Linked DNA regions of Homo sapiens. The protein of the gene in region 1 purifies or fractionates together with the protein of each later gene. This does not show direct contact. Each region holds a gene or a part of one and is shown in the gene's direction. Other genes may lie near its edges.

The links. The genes of interacting proteins can lie anywhere in the genome.
Region 2: the proteins of KLRC2 (region 1) and PIGG purify together in Homo sapiens (affinity purification with mass spectrometry; one large-scale study listed by BioGRID and IntAct). This does not show direct contact.
Region 3: the proteins of KLRC2 (region 1) and SLC7A11 purify together in Homo sapiens (affinity purification with mass spectrometry; one large-scale study listed by BioGRID and IntAct). This does not show direct contact.
Region 4: the proteins of KLRC2 (region 1) and GALNT13 purify together in Homo sapiens (affinity purification with mass spectrometry; one large-scale study listed by BioGRID and IntAct). This does not show direct contact.

Annotation. Positions count from the first base shown.
Region 1 is NC_000012.12:10,432,475-10,437,842, reverse strand, and holds the start of KLRC2 (NKG2-C type II integral membrane protein), read left to right. Parts: upstream 1-1,832; 5' UTR 1,833-1,856; coding exon 1,857-2,043; intron 2,044-2,432; coding exon 2,433-2,531; intron 2,532-3,312; coding exon 3,313-3,357; intron 3,358-3,900; coding exon 3,901-4,052; intron 4,053-5,368. UniProt on the Homo sapiens protein: Immune activating receptor involved in self-nonself discrimination.
Region 2 is NC_000004.12:525,772-530,690, forward strand, and holds part of PIGG (GPI ethanolamine phosphate transferase 2, catalytic subunit), read left to right. Parts: exon of another isoform or gene 1-33; intron 34-1,267; coding exon 1,268-1,459; coding exon of another isoform or gene 1,460-1,463; exon of another isoform or gene 1,464-1,770; intron 1,771-4,664; coding exon 4,665-4,919.
Region 3 is NC_000004.12:138,235,369-138,240,287, reverse strand, and holds part of SLC7A11 (cystine/glutamate transporter), read left to right. Parts: intron 1-3,836; coding exon 3,837-3,963; intron 3,964-4,919. UniProt on the Homo sapiens protein: Heterodimer with SLC3A2, that functions as an antiporter by mediating the exchange of extracellular anionic L-cystine and intracellular L-glutamate across the cellular plasma membrane.
Region 4 is NC_000002.12:154,241,484-154,246,402, forward strand, and holds part of GALNT13 (polypeptide N-acetylgalactosaminyltransferase 13), read left to right. Parts: intron 1-546; coding exon 547-713; intron 714-1,214; coding exon 1,215-1,422; intron 1,423-4,328; coding exon 4,329-4,499; intron 4,500-4,919. UniProt on the Homo sapiens protein: Catalyzes the initial reaction in O-linked oligosaccharide biosynthesis, the transfer of an N-acetyl-D-galactosamine (GalNAc) residue from UDP-GalNAc to a serine or threonine residue on the protein receptor.

The DNA of each region.
Region 1 (5,368 bases):
GGTGAGGAATCTACTTTTTCCACTCTTGCCTCACTCTGACCCTTCAAAGGGCAGCCTGTGAAGATCACAGATAACGTTTGTGTCTTTCAGAGGTAACCTGACCTCTCCACTGAAGGGCGTGTGGCTTTCTGATGACAGTAGGTAAGTGTTGCTCCTCTCCCTGTTTCTCTACTAGCTCATCTCATTTAGTAGAAGATTGTAAGTACTGGCTGTGATGCACCTGAGGTAAAGTTGATATAGACGAAAATCAAGGTAGAACTTTATTCACGTGAATAATTCAAGGTGAAAAACGAGCCAAAATATAAACTATGTTTAAGGATTTCTTAGAGTATTCACATCATTGCCGCTGGAGAATCACTCAAGTAGATGCATACATAATAATAGGTTTGCCAATCCATGTAATTTAGAGTGAAACCCATAACCATCATGACAATGAACAATTAATTTTGGATTTTGTAACCATTACATTTTGTATATTATATTTAGACCAAACTTTAAAAATAAATTTTTAATATGGATACATCAAATTGTGAATGTCAAACATTAATTCTCAATCACACACCTAGATTTCATGAAAGCAGTTTTAATTTTTAATAAAAGTAAGGATGAAATCATTTCCATAAAATGCAAATCTGACCTTAATTATAAACAATTGGAAGACTTAAAACAATTGAACCAAACATTGCAAAAAAGATGTACCACACTGACATGAGACGCCTAATTAATGAGTTATTTTAACACACTCTAATGCAAATCAGAAATAATAAAATGGCAATTGTGTTAAAAATAGTTGAAATATCTATTATGTATTCAGTGGTAACATGTGCCAGGTTGTGTGTTTAGTTTTTTACATACATTATACTTTATAAATTATTTTTCCCAATGTAGATTAGTAAACTAGGTTAGTAGACACTAAGTAATTTAGTACAGGTCACATATTACAACTTGCAAAGCTAGAATTAATTGTAGTCTCACTGACTACAGAGCTCATTGACTAGATTATTAAATTACATTATCTGAACTATTACAATTACTTATACAACCAAAGCAACCCTCACTGACTTATACAATCATAGGAGCTTTCTGAAAGTTTGATTGGACACTATTCTTCCATAGACGGCCCACACGTTTATTTATCATTTTAAGTTTTCCTATTTTAGTCATTAAATCAATTACCAATTTCTTGTGTAAAAGCAGCAATTTAAAAATACGTTTTCAATAATATTTATGCATACAGTAATGTAATGTTTTACAAGATATATTTTTAAAATTTTAATGATTTTTCTGATTTCCTAATTTAGAAAAAAAATCATTTGACAATACCTCAGGTCCTTTTAATAAATGAATGTAAGTCACTAACAATGTATTTTAGTATAAGAAGATACTCTATATGCTGACAGAACTATTTTATCTTATGGCACACAATCCTTAACCATCAATGACTCTTAAAACTATGATAAAATTTGTGTATTTCTAAATACAGTATTTTGATTGTTGACATATGCAGTCTATTGGTGTTAAACATTTTTGAAGAATCTAACCTTAATTTAATACCAATTTTTCATGAACTTCCTAGTTCTCATAAGTTTAATGTTTTTATTGTTCCCACTAGTAATATTATGTCAAATACAGAATACATCTAAAAAATTGCCAATTATATCGTGTGATTTTTGTTTAAAGCTTTAGGAAATTAGTAGCAGAATTTTACATTGGTTAACAGCAAAGTAAACATTATTACTCAGCCCCAACACATGCACATTGCCTATACCAGGGATCCTGTCAAAATATACACCATTTATAGCTTCTTAAGTGCAGTTATCATAGAGCACAGTCCCTCACATCACACAGCTGCAGAGATGAATAAACAAAGAGGAACCTTCTCAGAAGTGAGTCTGGCCCAGGACCCAAAGCGGCAGCAAAGGAAACCTAAAGGCAATAAAAGCTCCATTTCAGGAACCGAACAGGAAATATTCCAAGTAGAATTAAATCTTCAAAATCCTTCCCTGAATCATCAAGGGATTGATAAAATATATGACTGCCAAGGTAAAACATTAAATATATCTTCAATATTATTGTTCTAGGATGTGCAGTTGAATGCAGAAGGGTGAGGAAAGATTAGGGAATATTTTGCACTTGTGAGAATCGGAGTTCATAATTGGGATCTAAAATTCTAATATGAAATCAGAAGACTAATTTTATTCGGGCATTGTTCAACTGTAATCTGCGGTCCACTCATGGAACATTATATTTACTGAAAATGAAATGGTATATTCTGAGAGAAAGATTACTAGAGTAGATGTAGATTTAGAGGCCAGAGTTTATCATTATGTTTCCCTGTGCATGTGGGTTCTCTAGTATGTAATTCTCTAGTATGTAATCCTAATCAACTCTCTATCTCCCCTCTCTCAGTGCCTCTATTTCTCTCCCTGCAGGTTTACTGCCACCTCCAGAGAAGCTCACTGCCGAGGTCCTAGGAATCATTTGCATTGTCCTGATGGCCACTGTGTTAAAAACAATAGTTCTTATTCCTTGTAAGCATATTCTTGAAAGATTAGAAGGGAACGTTTTACTTTAATGCTTGGAAGTGCCTCAAAATATTTCATACTGTTGAAGAATAGAACTCTTATTTTACTGTTTCTTTCAAAGATCTATTACTTCATTTATTTTTATAGAAAAAGTTAATTTTATTAAAGATTGTCCCCATTTTAAATAACACACAAAGTTTCAAAGTAAGAAACTAAACTCATTATGGTTTATCTAAATATTACTTTTTATAAAAATCATTTTAATTTTTCTGTTACAGTCCTGGAGCAGAACAATTCTTCCCCAAATACAAGAACCCAGAAAAGTACATTTTTATTTTCAAAGTTCTGATATTAGTACAATTTGGAACCAAAAGTAATATGGTTATTCTGAATTTTTCACAACATAAATAACAAAATCATTGTAGAGAACATGTGTTTATTTTTTGTGTGTAATCTATATATATGTATATACATACACACACAAAGATATTTTCTGATTTCATAATTCAAAGGCATGCTATAGAAGAAAAGTATTTAGAAAAACAAATTAATTTTTGAAAGTGGTTACATCAAATACTACAAGAGATGGTGAAGTTTGTGCTAAAGTCTTTAAAAATGTTTATTTCAAAGGTCTATTACTTTATATATTTTTATAGAAAAAGTTAATTTTATTAAAGATTCTCCCCATTTTAAATAACACACAAAGTTTCAAAGTAAGAAACTAAACTCGTTATGGTTTATCTAGATATCAGTTTTTATAAAAATCATTTTAATTTTTCTATTACAGTCCTGGAGCAGAACAATTTTTCCCCGAATACAAGAACGCAGAAAGGTACATTTTTATTTTCAATGTTCTGATATTAGTACAATTTATATTTTGTGTCTGTTTTAAGGCATGTAAAAGAATAGTGGCATTTTTGCAGAAAATAAGCCATAAATTCAGCCATAAATATTTATAAAGAAAGATTATGAGGCAGCATTTCCTTTTCTCCAGTGAGTAGAAATACTCACTTAAAATCATTCTACCCTCTTTCTCCCAATTAACAGAGGTTTCCTACTGCTGTGAGATGATACCAAATAAATAATTTTACTATTCTAAAAAAGCAGTTGTGTATCAGCGATGTTCAACACATGTGTAGAGTGTATTTTTGTTTGTTCATTTGCTTTATATGGGAACACAATTAGGGAGGAGAGGCTAACCCTTGTCTGTGCATGTGTGTATGACTGACTCAGTTATTAAAAATATACATTTATAAGCCTGTAAGGATGCGTAAATATGTTAAGCACATATATGTTTATACTGTTGAAATATGTGAACTAATTTTCATTTTTAAAAATTCATATTGGTCTAGATAGTAATTCATATCTTTATTAGCACGTCATTGTGGCCATTGTCCTGAGGAGTGGATTACATATTCCAACAGTTGTTATTACATTGGTAAGGAAAGAAGAACTTGGGAAGAGAGTTTGCTGGCCTGTACTTCGAAGAACTCCAGTCTGCTTTCTATAGATAATGAAGAAGAAATGGTAAGATGTAAATGTTTCAAACATTTTATGAAAAGCTTCCTTCAGTGAATAATACATTTGTAGAAAACATCCATATGTGTGTACATATATTTATCTCATATATTTTCAAGTGTATGTAATATTCAATTGATTGACTTAATAATGTTTTTAAAGTTATATACTGCTAATGTACATTTATTTTCAGTTTTTGTTTTTCAAGGAAAACCATGCTTCTATAAGTGCTTTGAATCCACAATAAATTTTGCTATCTAATTTTATCGGGCATGATATCATCTGGTCATGCAGATTGATCACAAAGTGAATGAATGCATGTGATACAAGTCAGATCATGAAATAAAAGTTTCCAGCTCTAGCAGTTCCACCCCTGTGTATGCCCTCATCACTTATCCTGACTCCTCTCCAAAACGCAGTCTTGACTTTTAATATTATAAATAATGATTGCCTGTTCTTGAATTTATTTATATAAAGGGAATCAAGCAGTGTGAATTTCATGTCTTTTTCAATCCTATCTGATATTTGTGCAATTCCTCCATATTATTGCAGTTATCAGTAGTATGTTACTGTTCACTGCTGTACTATGTACAAAGAACAGTAAGAATCCATTGAGTCCTTGTCTCTGGATGGGGAAGTGGGTCTCATGCCCTCAGGGACAAAGAGGACCCTAGGTGGTTTACGGTGCACTGTTAGTCATGGGGTCCCTTTGCTGATCCTCCTCATCCACAGCCATCCTGGTGTCTCTTGGTATGAGAAGGAAGCACTTTCTCTAGCTCCATATTGGTAGCAGGTCTCCTGGTAGATCATCCTTGCCAGTGGCACCAGCCTTGCCTGGTATTGTGGAGGGGACTCTCCTTCGATACCCTCCTCCTATTGCCAGGTTGGGTGTAGGGAAACAGCAGGCCTAGGTCACCTTCTTCTGTCGTGTGGAGGACTTAACATGCTCACTCGGACACTTGGTTGATCCCTGATGCTAGGGTCCCAGACAATTTCATCTTTCTCTTTCCACCTTTCAGAGTTCTCCATTGCTTTTGTCTTTCATTAATCCCAGAGTTTATAGTTGTTTTTAGTCGGGAGTAGCAGAGAGAGACGAGTCTACACCACCTGGCCAGGACCCCTGTTATTCCGCAAAAACCGAATCGGATAAAAATTGAGGGCTTATCTAGTTAAAGAATGGTGTGGTACCCAGAAAACCCAATCTGTAGCTTCCATGTCATCTATTTCTGAATGACAACCCCTCAATTCCCTTCTAAATCTCCAACTCTGAGAAATATAGCACAAAAATAGATTGATTTAGTCACAGTATCTGGAGGAATGAATGC
Region 2 (4,919 bases), on another chromosome or scaffold:
GTGCCTGCACGTTTCCTTTCCAGAGAAGCCCCGGAGAGGGGACTTTGGTTGGTCCCCACTCCAGAGGTGAGGAAGCGGAGGGGGGACGGGCTGCTGGGAGGTTGTGCGGGGCACGCCAGCATCGGGGTGGGATCCCAGGCATGTAGAGCAGCCGGGTGTGTCAGGGAGCTCCGTGTCCCGGAATAGCACTTTGACACCTTGTTTCTTACTTTCCTGGAAAATTAAAGCATTAGGAAAGAATTGGCTGGCTTTCCGCCCCACATGCAAGAGCCACCCCCAACCGCATTATCCGCGGTTTTCCTTACGCGAGGTCAACCATAGTCTGAAAATATGACAGTTATTTTGAGGCAGCCCACATTCATATAATTTCTATGACAGTAACAATTATATTGTTATAAATGTTCTATTTTATTATTATAACAATCCTGAAGATTGTGTAAAAACGCGTGCCATTTAAAAAGCAACAATACACAGACACCCAGGTACCCCTTCCCGGGGTGAGGCCCAGGCCCCCGTGTGGCCCCAGTCTCCCCGTCATCCTGGGAGGCTTTGAAGCGGGAGCTGCAGTGAAAGAAACAGAAGGGAGCCCGGCCTTCCCCACCCTCACACAGGCCAGGACTGGCTGGTGCTGCACCACCGCATCGCGGTCGGGACTCCGGGCTCTGCCCTCTGACAGGCCGTCAACCTCTGCACCATCTCCTCACCCAGGAGCGGGTGACAGCAGACCCTGTGAGGCCATGTGGGTCTAGGGACGTATCATGCGTTACTGAGTTAATGGGAGGAGGCAGGAGAGGGGAGGTGAGCTGGTAGGTGCAGGGCTGACCCCGAGAGGGTACCAGGGAACAAGAGGACGGTTTCTATTTGTCACCGCCTGGCCTCTGGGCATCCACATCTGATGGTGGGAGACCCGTTTGTGAATGAGAAGTGAGAGTTCAAGTTAACTGTCTTTTTTTTTTTTTTTTAATGAGTTCTCACCATGTGGCCCAGACTGGTCTCAAATTCCTGGCCTCAAGCGATCCTTCCGCATTGGCATCCTAAAGTGCTGGGATTGCTGGTGTGAGCCACCACACCCCACTGAGGTTGACCATCTTTTATTTGTTACACTTTAAGAACCTTTGTTTGAAAATAAAAATCAACAATTTCATGTAATCTTTGGTTTTTGGGAAAATCAGCTATTTTTTAATACCGTTCTTTGAAAGCCACTTGGTGTAGATTGATCTTGTCGCTGTTTGTTTACGTAATGCTGGCATTTTCCATCTCATTTCAGCTCTGACCACAAAGCCGAGCTCTCTGTCCTGGCTGCCCTCTCCCTCCTCGTAGTTTTTGTGCTGGTGCAGAGGGGGTGCTCCCCTGTGTCCAAGGCTGCCCTGGCGCTGGGGCTGCTGGGCGTCTACTGCTACCGGGCGGCCATCGGGAGTGTCCGGTTCCCGTGGCGGCCGGACAGCAAGGACATTTCCAAGTAAGTGCGTGGCGGACACGGGGTGCATAGAGCCACTTTACTGTTTGAAGAACTGGCGGACACGGGGCGCGTGGAACCACTTCACTGTTTGATGAACTGAGAAGACCAAGCCAGTCTTCAGAGCATTGGAGTTTGGTGTTTGTGAATTGTGATTGTGTCAACAGCTACTGGAGTGTAACTAAGAAAACCTCAACCAGCTGCGTTGTTAGCACTTTTTATGTTTTATGTGTTACTTTTAGGAGACAAATCACTTGGAAGTAAGATTTTTTAAATTTAAAATAAAACCTTCAGGGTGTGTGATGGGACAGACAGATGAGCGTGAATCGGTTTCTAAGTTAGTGGCAGCACGTGATGGCCAGGGTTCTGTTTTCCTGGTCAGGGTGTAATTGGTGATGAGGATGATGAGTGGATGTTTCCCAGCAGCTGGGAAATGAAGCTTGCTGGAAAATCAGACCGTCCTTGTAATTTATAACGAGCCCCCGTAAGGGGCCAGGAGCTCCTGTTGATTGGCGGGAGGGCTCAGTCAGGAGGACCATTTTATTTTCTTTGTGTCAAAGCAACTGTGTTTCTGATTTTAATTGTGTTGTGGTGGTGAACACAGGAGTGGGATGAGCAGAGGCCGTTCTGGAGGGCAGCTTGTAACATGTGGGTGACCCTCTATTTAAATTTAAATAGCTGTTTCCATTTATCTCAAGAATATAAGCAGAGGCAGGAGCCTGGGATGGGACAGAGGCATGTCCACTGAAGTGTCCTTCACAAAGTGTCCTTGCAAAAAGGAACAACCAGGGTAATTATCCAGCAGCAATACAGTGATCCTCCCAGTGAGGTCGGTGCTCTGACAGTGACCGTCCCAGTGAGGTCGGTGCTCTGATAGTGACCCTCTCAGTGAGGTCGGTGCTCTGCAGAGGGGTCTTCTGGCTGTTAGGCAGCCTATTTTCACAGAACAGAGAAGCATGTTGTGGAACAGGTATGACCCCAGCTTACTAATTGTGTACCTGTTTTTTTTTTCATACTTATATGAAAGACTACATACTTAAAATACTGGTGATTATATTTAGGACCTGAAATCATAAGATTGTGGTCTTGCTTTTTACTTATTTTTGTATCTTAGCGATGTCTAGAGTTAATAAGTGTTGCTTTTCTAATCACAGCAAGTCAAGGTGACTGCTGAGGGCTGTGGCCAGCCTGAGGGGTGGCCGTGGGGCTCCGGGGGCACCCCTGGAAGTACTTCCTGGCTGAGTGGGGAGTAAGGGGTGGGAGTTAGGGTGACCTGAGGCCTGGCTGAGGCAGTGAGAGTGTAGCAGGCCGTCATACGGGGCCGGGGCCTGGGGCAGAGAGGATGCTGACGTGCAGGTACCAGCGGTGTTCTGTGGAGATGTCTCAAAGGCTGTTGACTTTGGAATCTGAGACTTAGGGCTCATCCAAATGGATGTTACATTTGCGGGTGTGTGTTTAAGGTGCAGCGTATGAATAAATTCATTTCCTCACAGATCTATACACTGAATTTCAGCATCACTCATCTCAAGACCTTGGCCCTCTTCCCTTTCCTGGCCTGCTTCCTGCAGCATGTAATTTGCTAGTGTCCAGAACTAGCCAGTGTGCCTTTTCTTTCCACACGCACTGCCTGGTTCACCTTCTTCCTGTAAAGTGCCTCCGTCCTTTGTCCCCATCTGTCCCGATCGTAAATAGGTCCTGGCTACAGAGGCATCCTGGCTCTAGATCATTGTAACAGCTGCCGCTCTCCTGTCAGTCCCCCGGGCCCTGCCATCCACTGAGAGTCTGAAATCCTTTGCACTCAGTTCCTGACTGTCCTCCACTCAGAAGCCCAGGGATGGCTGGAGTGGAGGTGGAAGCGGGGTGGGCCTGGTTGAGCAGGATCAGACTCTGCCCGGCCAGGGGAGGAGGAGGAGGACCCACCAAAGGCCCTGGATGATGCCCCTCCTGCTCATCACCCTGCCTGCCCTAGCATCCTCTCGACACAGAAACCAGTCCCTTTTCTTCTATGAAACTTCTCCAGTGATTGTGACCTTTGCTGATTTCTCCCTTCTTTGAATGCAGATGGGCCTATAATTCACTCTTAACTTAGCACACACCTTGGCCTGTGGGGGTTGCCAGGTACCTGACCCCAGCTCCTCAGCCAGGATGTGGGCCCCTCCTGGCAGCCACACTGCCAGGCACATGGTATACAGTGCTCAGGCTGTTTGAACTAAACTGATCAAAGTTTACTTTCTTAATGTAAAAGCTTTCTAAGAAAATCTAATATAGGAAAATTCAGTTTTCACAATATTATGATATTAAAAATTACGATTATTTTAAATGATCAGATTTGTAGGCTGTGTGAAGCATTTCATTTACAAAATTTATTTAAAATATTATGTTTTAGGAACATACGTGTTTTGTAAGATGAAATTTTTTGGTAATTGTATCCTTTACAGATAACTATCATAAGAGTACTTAATTTTACTGAGCTTACTGTGTGCCAAGCACTCCCTGCATTCCCTTGCTTAATTCCTAGGATGACTTTGTGAAGTGTAGAACCATTTTCTCTCCATTTCACAAATAGCAAAGCTGAGGGTCAGAAGTCTTGATTGACACGCCCGAGTAGGAGAGCTAGTGAGCAGAGCAGCAGGGCTCGGACTGAGCAGAGCTCTGCCTTTTCTCAGAGCCCGCGGGTTGGATGACTGCACCACTGCACGCGTGTGTGCCTGTGAATGTGCAGGTGCTTATTTACCTATAACTGCATGTATGTGTACCTGTAAATGTGCAAATCCTTCTTTAAATCTGCTCAGTTGTGCAATGAACATTTATGAACTTACAGCAGTTTCTTAGAGTTGACTCTTATACTAGTGCGTTGGGTTTTTTTTAATTAACTGCAAAGCAGGCGGGCCACGAGGGCACCGCTTGGGTCGTGCCACCAGATGAGCCAAATGAGCAAGATCTCCCCGAAGCCAGCCCCAGCGGAAGAGTCTGCACGAGGACACACCTGTGGGCCTGTGGCGGCGGCTCCTCAGGGCTGCTGTGCGGAGGAGACATGCCCACTGCCATGACAGGACCTGGGGGGTAGGGAGGGTGCCGCGGCTCCTTTAGTCAGCAGTGCTGGACATTTACTGGTTCCCTGGGTAGATAGGTGTGTTTTTCATGGGAAAATGTTTTTGAATTTTTCTCACTGGTGCTAATGAATCTAACTTGTTTTGCTCTTTTTTAGGGGTATTATTGAAGCTCGTTTTGTTTATGTCTTTGTCCTTGGCATTCTGTTCACGGGCACCAAAGACTTACTTAAATCTCAAGTCATTGCTGCAGACTTCAAACTCAAGACTGTAGGTTTATGGGAGATATATAGTGGATTAGTTCTTCTGGCAGCCTTGCTCTTTAGACCACATAATCTTCCGGTCTTAGCATTTAGCCTCTTGATTCAGACTCTAATGACTAAATTCATCTGGAAGCCCCTGAGACACGATGC
Region 3 (4,919 bases), on another chromosome or scaffold:
GTCCTCAAATTCCATTTTTAGGAAGAAGTTATTTTAAATAGAACTTGTTAAAACAAGTAGTATAGAAAGATTTATAGAGGAATTATTTGGGGTTTTTAGAGAGAGTTTGTGGTATTATTTATAACTAACTTGTGCTTTATTAAATATTCAGTAACAATTGTGTATCATTATTTCCCAGTATTACTTCCCATCTTTATAAAATAATTTGGAGTAATATCATTATGAAAAACTCTAATAGTACCCTTAGCCACTATTAATATTAAAATAGCTCTGGTATATGCACTTATAGAAAAAGAGAAACCTAATTGTTGATCATCTTAAATGATTTTGTGCACCCTCAGCCTTTAAATCTTCCTACAGCACTTTATATATTCAGAATAAATCAATATCTAATCAGAAAAACCACAACCAGTTTACTGGACTTTGCGTACTTATGTGCATGCAGCTTCCACTATGTGATTCAATTTTTGCACATAATAAAAGATTATTCAGATGTAATAAAATAGATCAGTATGAGTATTGAACTAGTTAAAGTGTGTTGACTTGCACTATGAAAATATGCTTATGCATAAGTATTACATATCATCTGAAGCAAAAGCTCAAAAAAAAATAAAAAGAGAGAAACAGCTAAGGAGACTAGCTAACATTACACTTGAGTTGGTATTCTTTGATTAGTAATTGCAGGGAGTGTGCTCTTGTATTAATCTACTTATCTTTATTTGCATTGCATTTGTCACTTAAGTTACCAGAAGCTTTTGGACAGGAGTGCCTCTGTAACAGCAAGCAAAGCAAAATCTGAAGAAAAAATAATCCTTCTTTTTAAAAAGACTCTAGAACTTTGGGACCAACTGTAAAGAATCTGTACATTTGGTTTAATACATATATATACTTTTTTTTTAAGTGAAGGGTCAATACATGGATTTTTACATCTTGTTTTGAACTTTTTTCATCTGGGCAAAATGGTTATGAAGCTTGAGACCTTTAAATGAAAATCATTCCCCCAGAACTCAGTTTAAACCTAGGGCAACCATCCTGGAGTTTCAGTAAAGCATATAGAGGTCTAGGTATTGATTCTCTGACAATAAATTCTGAGGTACTTAAGACTCTTCCCAATAACATTTTATATTGGATCCTTTTCTGGACAGCCTACCAACATGGCGAATGTTTCCCCATGGAGAGTGAGTTGCAACTAGTTAAAATTAGTTATAGGTAGATGAAATACATCAGTGTTCCCCAAATATTAGTCTGCAGACTCGTTACTTTAGAATTATTTGTACAAATTTTAAAATGATAGAGATTCTTGAATTTCTCTTGTGGACAATCTATACTCTCTTGATTAGAGTCTGTTTTTGGTTTGAGTGTTTTCGAATTAAAAATTATTCCCAGACTGAGCATGGTGGCTCATGCCTATAATCTCAGCACATTGGGAGGCTGAGGCAGACAGACCCCTTGAGCCCAGGAGTTCCAGACCAGCCTGGGCAACATGGCAAAACCCTGCCTCTACAAAAAATACACAAAAATTTAGCTGGGCATGGTGGTGTGTACCTGTGGTCCCAGCTACTTGGGAGGCTGACGTGGAAGGATCACTTGAGCTCAGGAGGCAGAGGCTGCAGTGAGGCAAGATTGTGCCACTGCACTCCAGCCTAGGTGCCAGAGTGATACCCTATCTCAAAAATTAAAAAAAAAAAAAAATTATTCCTAGGTGACTTTGATGTCATGATAAGTTTAGAAATCAGATATAAAATATGTAACACTAAGATTTCACTGAATATCCAAATTATATTTATATTGAGCAGTTCTGTCTAAATTATTACTAATCAGTAGTACTTTTCTACACTTTTATTCTCAGAAGTAGATTGGAAAAAAATTGTGTTCTTACATTTGAGCACTTGGCAGTACAGATAGAACTTTTCACATAATGACAGGATTTTTTTAAATTTTCTTGTTAATTACTCAAATTAATAAGTATAGCTATATTTCATGTGGTGCTTGCCATGTGTCAGGCCATGTACTGTACTAGGTACCCGCTGCCACATTTATACACACAACTCCTTTATGAGGTAGAAGCTGAGATCTCCATTTCACAGAGAGTGAAACTGAGGTTTTGGGGAGTTGCATATTTGTCCAATTTTATGTGAATTGTATCGTTAAATGTTAAAAATTTAGCTTATAGTTAATTTGATCTAAAGTACACAAATATAAATTATAGCACCTCATTTTAAAAAGTATATTCTGGGCCGGGCGCAGTGGCTCACGCCTGTAATCCCAACACTTTGGGAGGCCAAGGCAAGCAGATCACCTGAGGTCGGGAGTTTGAGACCAGCCCGACCAAAATTGAGAAACCCTGTCTCTACTAAAAATACAAAAAATTAGCCAGGCGTGCTGGCAGGCACCTCTAATCCCAACTACTTGAGAGGCTGAGGCAGGAGAATCACTTGAACCCTGGAGACAGAGGTTGCAGTGAGCAGAGATCGTGCCACTGCACTGCAGCCTGGGGGGACAGAGTGAGACTCCATCTCAAAAAAAAAAAAAAAAAAAAAAAAAAAAAAATATATATATATATATATATATATATATATATATATATTCTGGCTAGGCGCAGTGGCTCACACTTGTAATCCCAGCACTTTGGGAGGCCGAGGTGGATGGATCTTCTGAGGTCTGGAGTTCAAGACCAGCTTGGCCAACATGGTGAAACCCTGTCTCTACTAAAAATATGAAAATTAGCCAGATGTGGTGGCAGCCACCTGTAATCCCAGCTATTCGGGACCCTGAGGCAGGAGAATTGCTTGAACCTAGGAGGCAGAGGTTGCAATGAGCTGACAGCGCCATTGCACTCCAGCCTGGGTGACCAAAAATTCCATCTCAAAAAAACAAAAAACAAACAAAAAAAAACACCCAGAGAGTACACTTCAAAAAACATCCAAGATAGCCTTTTATAGAAACAGAGTCAGAATTCATTTTGTTGACAAAATATATCCTACAAATTAAATGAAATCTTGGCCGTGCACAGTGGCTCACACCTGTAATCCCAGAACTTTGGGAGACCAAGGCGGGCAGATCATGAGGTCAGGAGATTGAGACCATCCTGGCTAACACCATGAAACCCCGTCTCTACTAAAAATACAAAAAAAATTAGCCAGGCGTGGTGGCGGGCGCCTGTAGTCCCAGCTTCTCGGGAGGCTGAGGCAGGAGAATGGTGTGAACCCAGGAGGCAGAGCTTGCAGTGAGCCGAGATCGCGCCACTGCACTCCAGCTTGGGCGACAGAGTGAGACTCCGTCTCAAAAAAAAAAAAAAAAAAAAGAAATCTTGCAAGTCAGAGAGTCCATGGTTTTCTAAAGAGTGGATACAGCTTGTTCATTTTGATTTTCCACAGAAACATAATTTATTAAAAGGGTTCTCAAAAAATAACTCAAAAAACTTAAAAGCTAACTCAAACATTTGGACTAATGCCTTGTCTTGGTGTGAGGTTGTGTTCTTCTAAAAATAGGTCAATATTATTGACATCTCTCTCCTCTTTTTCCCCTATTTCCAGGTTTTCAGCTCAAAATTCTGGAACACATGATATTGTTGCAGACATGTATCTTTGTCATTTCAAGTAAAATTATAGTGTTCAAATAGAATACACTAAATCTCAACTGTGAGGATGTTAGAAAAGGAACTTGGCGGGTCTTAGCAATTAGATGATGGTTATTTGTCTTGAGTAAGGATGCCATTCAGACCAAAGGAGGCAGTTACATCTCAGGCAACATATAAACATTATTGTATCTATTCTAATGCTGGGTGTCTTGAAAATGTATTAAATTGGTACCATTTTGTGACAAATATTTCACAGGAGCTTTGTCTTATGCTGAATTGGGAACAACTATAAAGAAATCTGGAGGTCATTACACATATATTTTGGAAGTCTTTGGTCCATTACCAGCTTTTGTACGAGTCTGGGTGGAACTCCTCATAATACGGTAAGAGCATAGTAGAAAGAATTAAGAAAAAATAAACCAATTCATTCTTATGAATCACCTTGATTATTTTTAACTGGTTAGACACATGCATGTCATGTGACTACATGATAAACATGTCTACCTCAGGATATAAAGCCTGTGATAAAGTACCTTTCTGAATTAAGATATTTTTAATGCAATTTTATCACTGACAAGCAGTTCACCAGCAATGCCAAACTTTTAGAAATATCTACCTTTCTTTGACCCTCAGCTATTCTCTTTGACACTTCCAGGAGAAAGATGCTTACTTGAAAGAATATGAACATGAAAATTCACCTGGATACCTTTTGACCAACTAGACCAAATTAAATATTGAAGTTTTCTCTTATTGTAGATTATATCATTAAGGCATTTAACTTTACTTAGTCATTGTGACCAAGACACTTCTGTGCCTCACAACTTAGTTGGTCACCAAGTCTTATACTTCATAAAAAACAGAGTTTGCATGACAGAGTCAAATGACTCATTTCCTTATATTAAACAGATTAGGAACTACAGTTCCAAAAGTCTTTTTTGATTTTATTGTTGTAACAATGTGTTTACATTCCTGCTTGTCTTGGTTTAAAATCACACTGAATAGTGCTAAGTCACTCTGAATAGCAAATTTCCTTCGACTTTGTGGGAAGCTTATGATGTCATATGAGCATTTCAGAGTATCACAGTTCCTTAAGGCTAACTACTTTGATAAAATGTGATGTGCACAGTCTGATTACAGAATTTAATGGATATTACTAGGGAAACTTGCTCTTATCAAACTTATCAAACATATGTGATTGAGAGTTCATGTGAGCTTTTATGGCTAAGTGCCAAATACAGTGCTAGTAAGTATTGACAACACTAATCATGAGTTTTACAGTGTTAGAAGTCTTTTTTTTTTTAACCAAAAAAAGATCTTCAAAGTAGTATATGCTTCATGA
Region 4 (4,919 bases), on another chromosome or scaffold:
GCATTTAGTAGATTCTGAATCTAAAGGAAACCTAAATCATTCCTTGGAAGTAGACATTGTTTATAGCATCCTCAAATGGAATTAAAAGCATATATGACTAGATTTAGAACAGAAAAATCTGTTTTACATATTTCAAAACCCTTTGGACCCTTGTCTGTTTATGTTCCTATGACTTCTTGAGTTATACATTTTTATTAACAAATGATAAAATTATATTCACTAAATGAACTCATTTGTACCTGTTTTACCAGTTTCAGAATGTTATTTTATATTTCTTAGGTTTTTCTTAGACTTGTAGAAATCATGCTGCTTTGTTCCCTGCAGGAGTTAAAATAAAAATATTAGTAATTATGCATATTTAATTTTCAGAATGCCAACTGATTACTCACAGCAGTTATAAAAGGGAAATGATTTTAGATATTCATAAAACATTTCCTTAGTAAGGGGCTTTCAAGTCTGAAGTTGTGTTATTATGGATATTTCTTTTTAAAATAATCAGGATAAAAAATGCATTTATTAAGATCCCTCTTCTTTTCTCTTTTTCAGATGTAAGACAAAAGTCTACCCTGATGAACTTCCAAACACAAGTGTAGTCATTGTGTTTCATAATGAAGCTTGGAGCACTCTCCTTAGAACTGTTTACAGTGTGATAAATCGTTCCCCACACTATCTACTCTCAGAGGTCATCTTGGTAGATGATGCCAGTGAAAGAGGTACAAACTGGTTTTTTGTTTTTGTTTTTGTTTTTTTGTTTTGTTTTGTTTTGTTTTTTTGTATTAGAAAGCTTTATTATGGCCAAAAAGATAACTAGGCAATGATCTATATTTGCATTATAATTTTACTAGCCCTGCCACAGCCTATCAGATTCTCATCAAGAACCTCATTAATGCCAACTCTAGAAGCAAATAACTAATTCTTTCACTTTCTCTCATGATTCTATATGGTTCTTACCTAAAATTTCAGCCAAAATGACTTTCAAAAATATATCTTTTTTCCAACTCAATTGATTATATTATTGAGCATTCTCATATGATTTTATGGATACTTGACATTAATTAACTAATGAAATCTCTATTATTTTATATCTAAGGCAGTAAATACTGATAGGAATTGGCCACCATTTCTGTGTGTTGAATTTCCATCTTGGTAGTATCTCTGCTATTTCTTAAAACAGTTTCAAAAATTTTTCTTATAAATTCTTATACATGTTACAGATTTTCTCAAGTTGACATTAGAGAATTACGTGAAAAATTTAGAAGTGCCAGTAAAAATTATTAGGATGGAAGAACGCTCTGGGTTAATACGTGCCCGTCTTCGAGGAGCAGCTGCTTCAAAAGGGCAGGTCATAACTTTTCTTGATGCACACTGTGAATGCACGTTAGGATGGCTGGAGCCTTTGCTGGCAAGAATAAAGGAAGACAGGTAAGAATTTATGTGTTCTGTCTGCCTGGGTTATGACTGAACCTCTTAGGACAGTTCCAGATGTCCATCAGAATTTCTCTTCCAAGTTGCTATTTTTAGAAGGTTTATTTTATAGCTTTTCTTAAAAGCACGTTTTCCCACTTGCTTGATAAATAAGACTGCTGTATTCATGCTGGACATAGATAGTTGATTAAGAAATAGTGAAATAATTCAAATAATAAAAACGTGTTAAATTACTTTTTAGGTGAAGGAAATAAATATAATCTAAAATAGTATAATTGTGTTATAAAGCACATTTTCAAAGCACCTTTTTGTGTTCTGACAACCACCCTGTGAGGTAGGTACTGTAGATATTCTTATCTATAACTTATAATGAGGAGGAACAAAGAAGCCACATCTAACTTGCTCCTGTCATTGGAAGTGCTGGGAACAACAATTCAGCTCTTTCCAGTTCTCTGCCAGTGTTCTGTAAACTACACGAGCACCCTTAGTCAGTCTAGTTCAAATCCACCTGGAATGTCTTAAAAATGCACACACACACATGCACACACACAGCACTGAAAAAATTATAATTAAAAAAAGAAACATAAGAGCACAGCTATAAGAATATGTTTAATTATTTCAACAATGTCACCTTATACATACACATTTTGAAATCTGGAAAATTGAATAAATAACACTTATAGAAATTAAGAATCCTTATACATACCTGCAATTCCTTCTGTTGTTGATGAAGTACAAGCATTTTTTAGCAAATATTTATAAACACTGGTGATAAGAGAGTATAATTTCTAAATACCTAGATAACTAACATTGAATGCCAACTGATACAATAACAAAACATTACATAACACCATACTTGCATAGTCATTTCGTCTATAGTAGAAAATTCCTTCTAGAATTGACATTTTTAATTAGACACTCAAGATAGGAGCTACTTAGTCTGAGCTAGTCCAGCCACATCACTTAAACAGCAGGATTTGGTACTTGCCAGGAAGATGGATGGAAGCTGTCAGTAAAATGAAGCACAGCAGTTGAAGAAAGCAGTAGGAACCTTTTAGTCCATAGAGTGTTGTACATGGCTAATAACATTTTTCCACTCTGTGTATTGTACAGTACCCACAGGACAATCAGACTGGCAAAGTAAAATGAACTTAAAAATGAATTTCCTGGCAAATTTTGGTACATTATGTTGTTTTTTTTTTCCACATGTGTTTCATATTCAACTGAATGAGCTTTTAATGTTTCAATACGGTCATACATAGGCTATTTATTTTTTTGATCTAACAACATAATTGCACTGTATTTGCATATGATGAACCCTATTGTCTTGACCTGATTATAAAGTTTAAAACTACCCTAAATAGACAGTCTGTTCAAGATTTTTAGACCTAATTTCTTCTCCTCACAAGTTAAATCATTAAATCTAATAAAGGAAGTGAGAAAAATGTTGATTTTTCTGGGGTCCAGAGTCACCAAGAAGGTTTTCCAAGGCTAGAGGAGTCTTGTTGATCGCAGATAAGTTGAGGCTCTGGTCAGTTGTGTGGAATATAAGACTTCAATTGAAAATGAGTATTGGTGAAACTGGTGTTACAAAACAAGTATGAATAATGGACATTTATGTGCTTTTCATATCTAGGGATGATTCAGAAGCTTATTTGTGTATTTACCTTCTACCAAATATGAAAAACCAACTCTGGTCTTCAGAATTAGCTACAACCAATACAATTTGAGTAGGCCTGAACATTTACTTGTGGAAATCACAGAAGGTTGGTCCCATAATAAAATAAATGAACAGGCATTAGATCAAGAATTAGAGAAGGCACAACATGGATTAAAAGTGTACCTAATGATTTTCCCAAATGAAATTTTCTACCATAGAAAGCTACCATTAAGAACACCAACCTTTCTCTTACTTTAAGAAAAATGGGATAGGCCAGGTGCGGTGGCTCACACCTATAATCCCAGCATTTGGGAGGCCAAGGCAGGTGGATCACCTGAGGTCAGGAGTTCGAGACCAACCTAGCCAACATGGTGAAACTCTGTCTCTGCTAAAAATACAAAAATTAGCCAGGTATGATGGCAGGCACGTTGGGAGGCTGAGGCAGGAGAATTGCTTGAACCTGGGAGGCAGAGTTTGCACTGATCTGAGATCTCCCCACTGCACTCCAGCCTGGGTGACAGGGCAAGGCTCTGTCAAAATAAATAAATAAATAAATAAATAAATAAATAAATAAATAAAACACCAGAGATTAAAGTTGCTTATCTTTCCCTATCTTAAGCTATCATCTAGATTATACATGTAAACTCTTAATTTGAGGACATTTTACTCAGAAATGGTCATGACCCTATCATCTTTCATCGGAAACATTTACTTATACTGACGGATTATGATTTTTGTTGTTGCTGTTTGTTGATTTCTGTTTGTTTTTCCTAGTAGGTGTTTTCTCCATGAAGATGTTCTCAGAACTCTCTAAACTAACGTACCCTACTTGAAATGCAAACTACCAGATCTAATTTGCCATCATCCCTTCTTACCTCCCTGAATGCTATTTCTTTTCAATGGATTATAGCTAAAATGATGCATAATCTCAAAGCAGCTCTACTAATCATGCTGTGGGTGGAGGTTTTATAAAAAATAGACCCTGCTCATCTTGCTAAGTTAGTACTTAGAATGCATTTGGAAATAAACTTGTTTAGATTTCAAAAGATAGCATAAAGTAAACTGTAAGGAATATGTAGTCAAAGGAAATAATTCCATGGACTAATAGGATAAAATGAAGCTAAAGGCATATTAAAGTAACAAAATAATTAAATTTCCTCATATCAGCTATAATCAGTTTGAAGAAGATAATGTAACATTTTAATTATCATGTGTCTATAAATTGGTTTTAATTTCTCTGCAGGAAAACGGTTGTCTGCCCTATCATTGATGTGATTAGTGATGATACTTTTGAATATATGGCTGGGTCAGACATGACTTATGGGGGTTTTAACTGGAAACTGAATTTCCGCTGGTATCCTGTTCCCCAAAGAGAAATGGACAGGAGGAAAGGAGACAGAACATTACCTGTCAGGTATGTAGATCATATCTCTTGAAGATTATGTATATCCCCCTAAAAATTAAGGAATATTATAGATTTCTGTTCTAATGTTTAATTATTTAATTGTATCCTTATTATTCAATATACATATACATTATGACCTTTACATAATCATATAAGGATCAATGACAATATTAAATCTAATTTAAATTAGTATAGGCAAACTTAAGTATTGGCAAAAATGCTAAATATCTTTTGAAAGTTTATGTATTCTTGTATTCAAAATATATTTACTGTGAATTTTCTATGTGACAGAAATGTGCTAGCCTTGACACTTCAAGTAAATGTGTGTCTTACCTTAAAGTATAGATTTATAATAGAAATGTTCTCAAAACTGAAATAGCCAAAAATGTTTTGGTAAGTATTCTAAATATACCACCTTTAAAAGGTTAT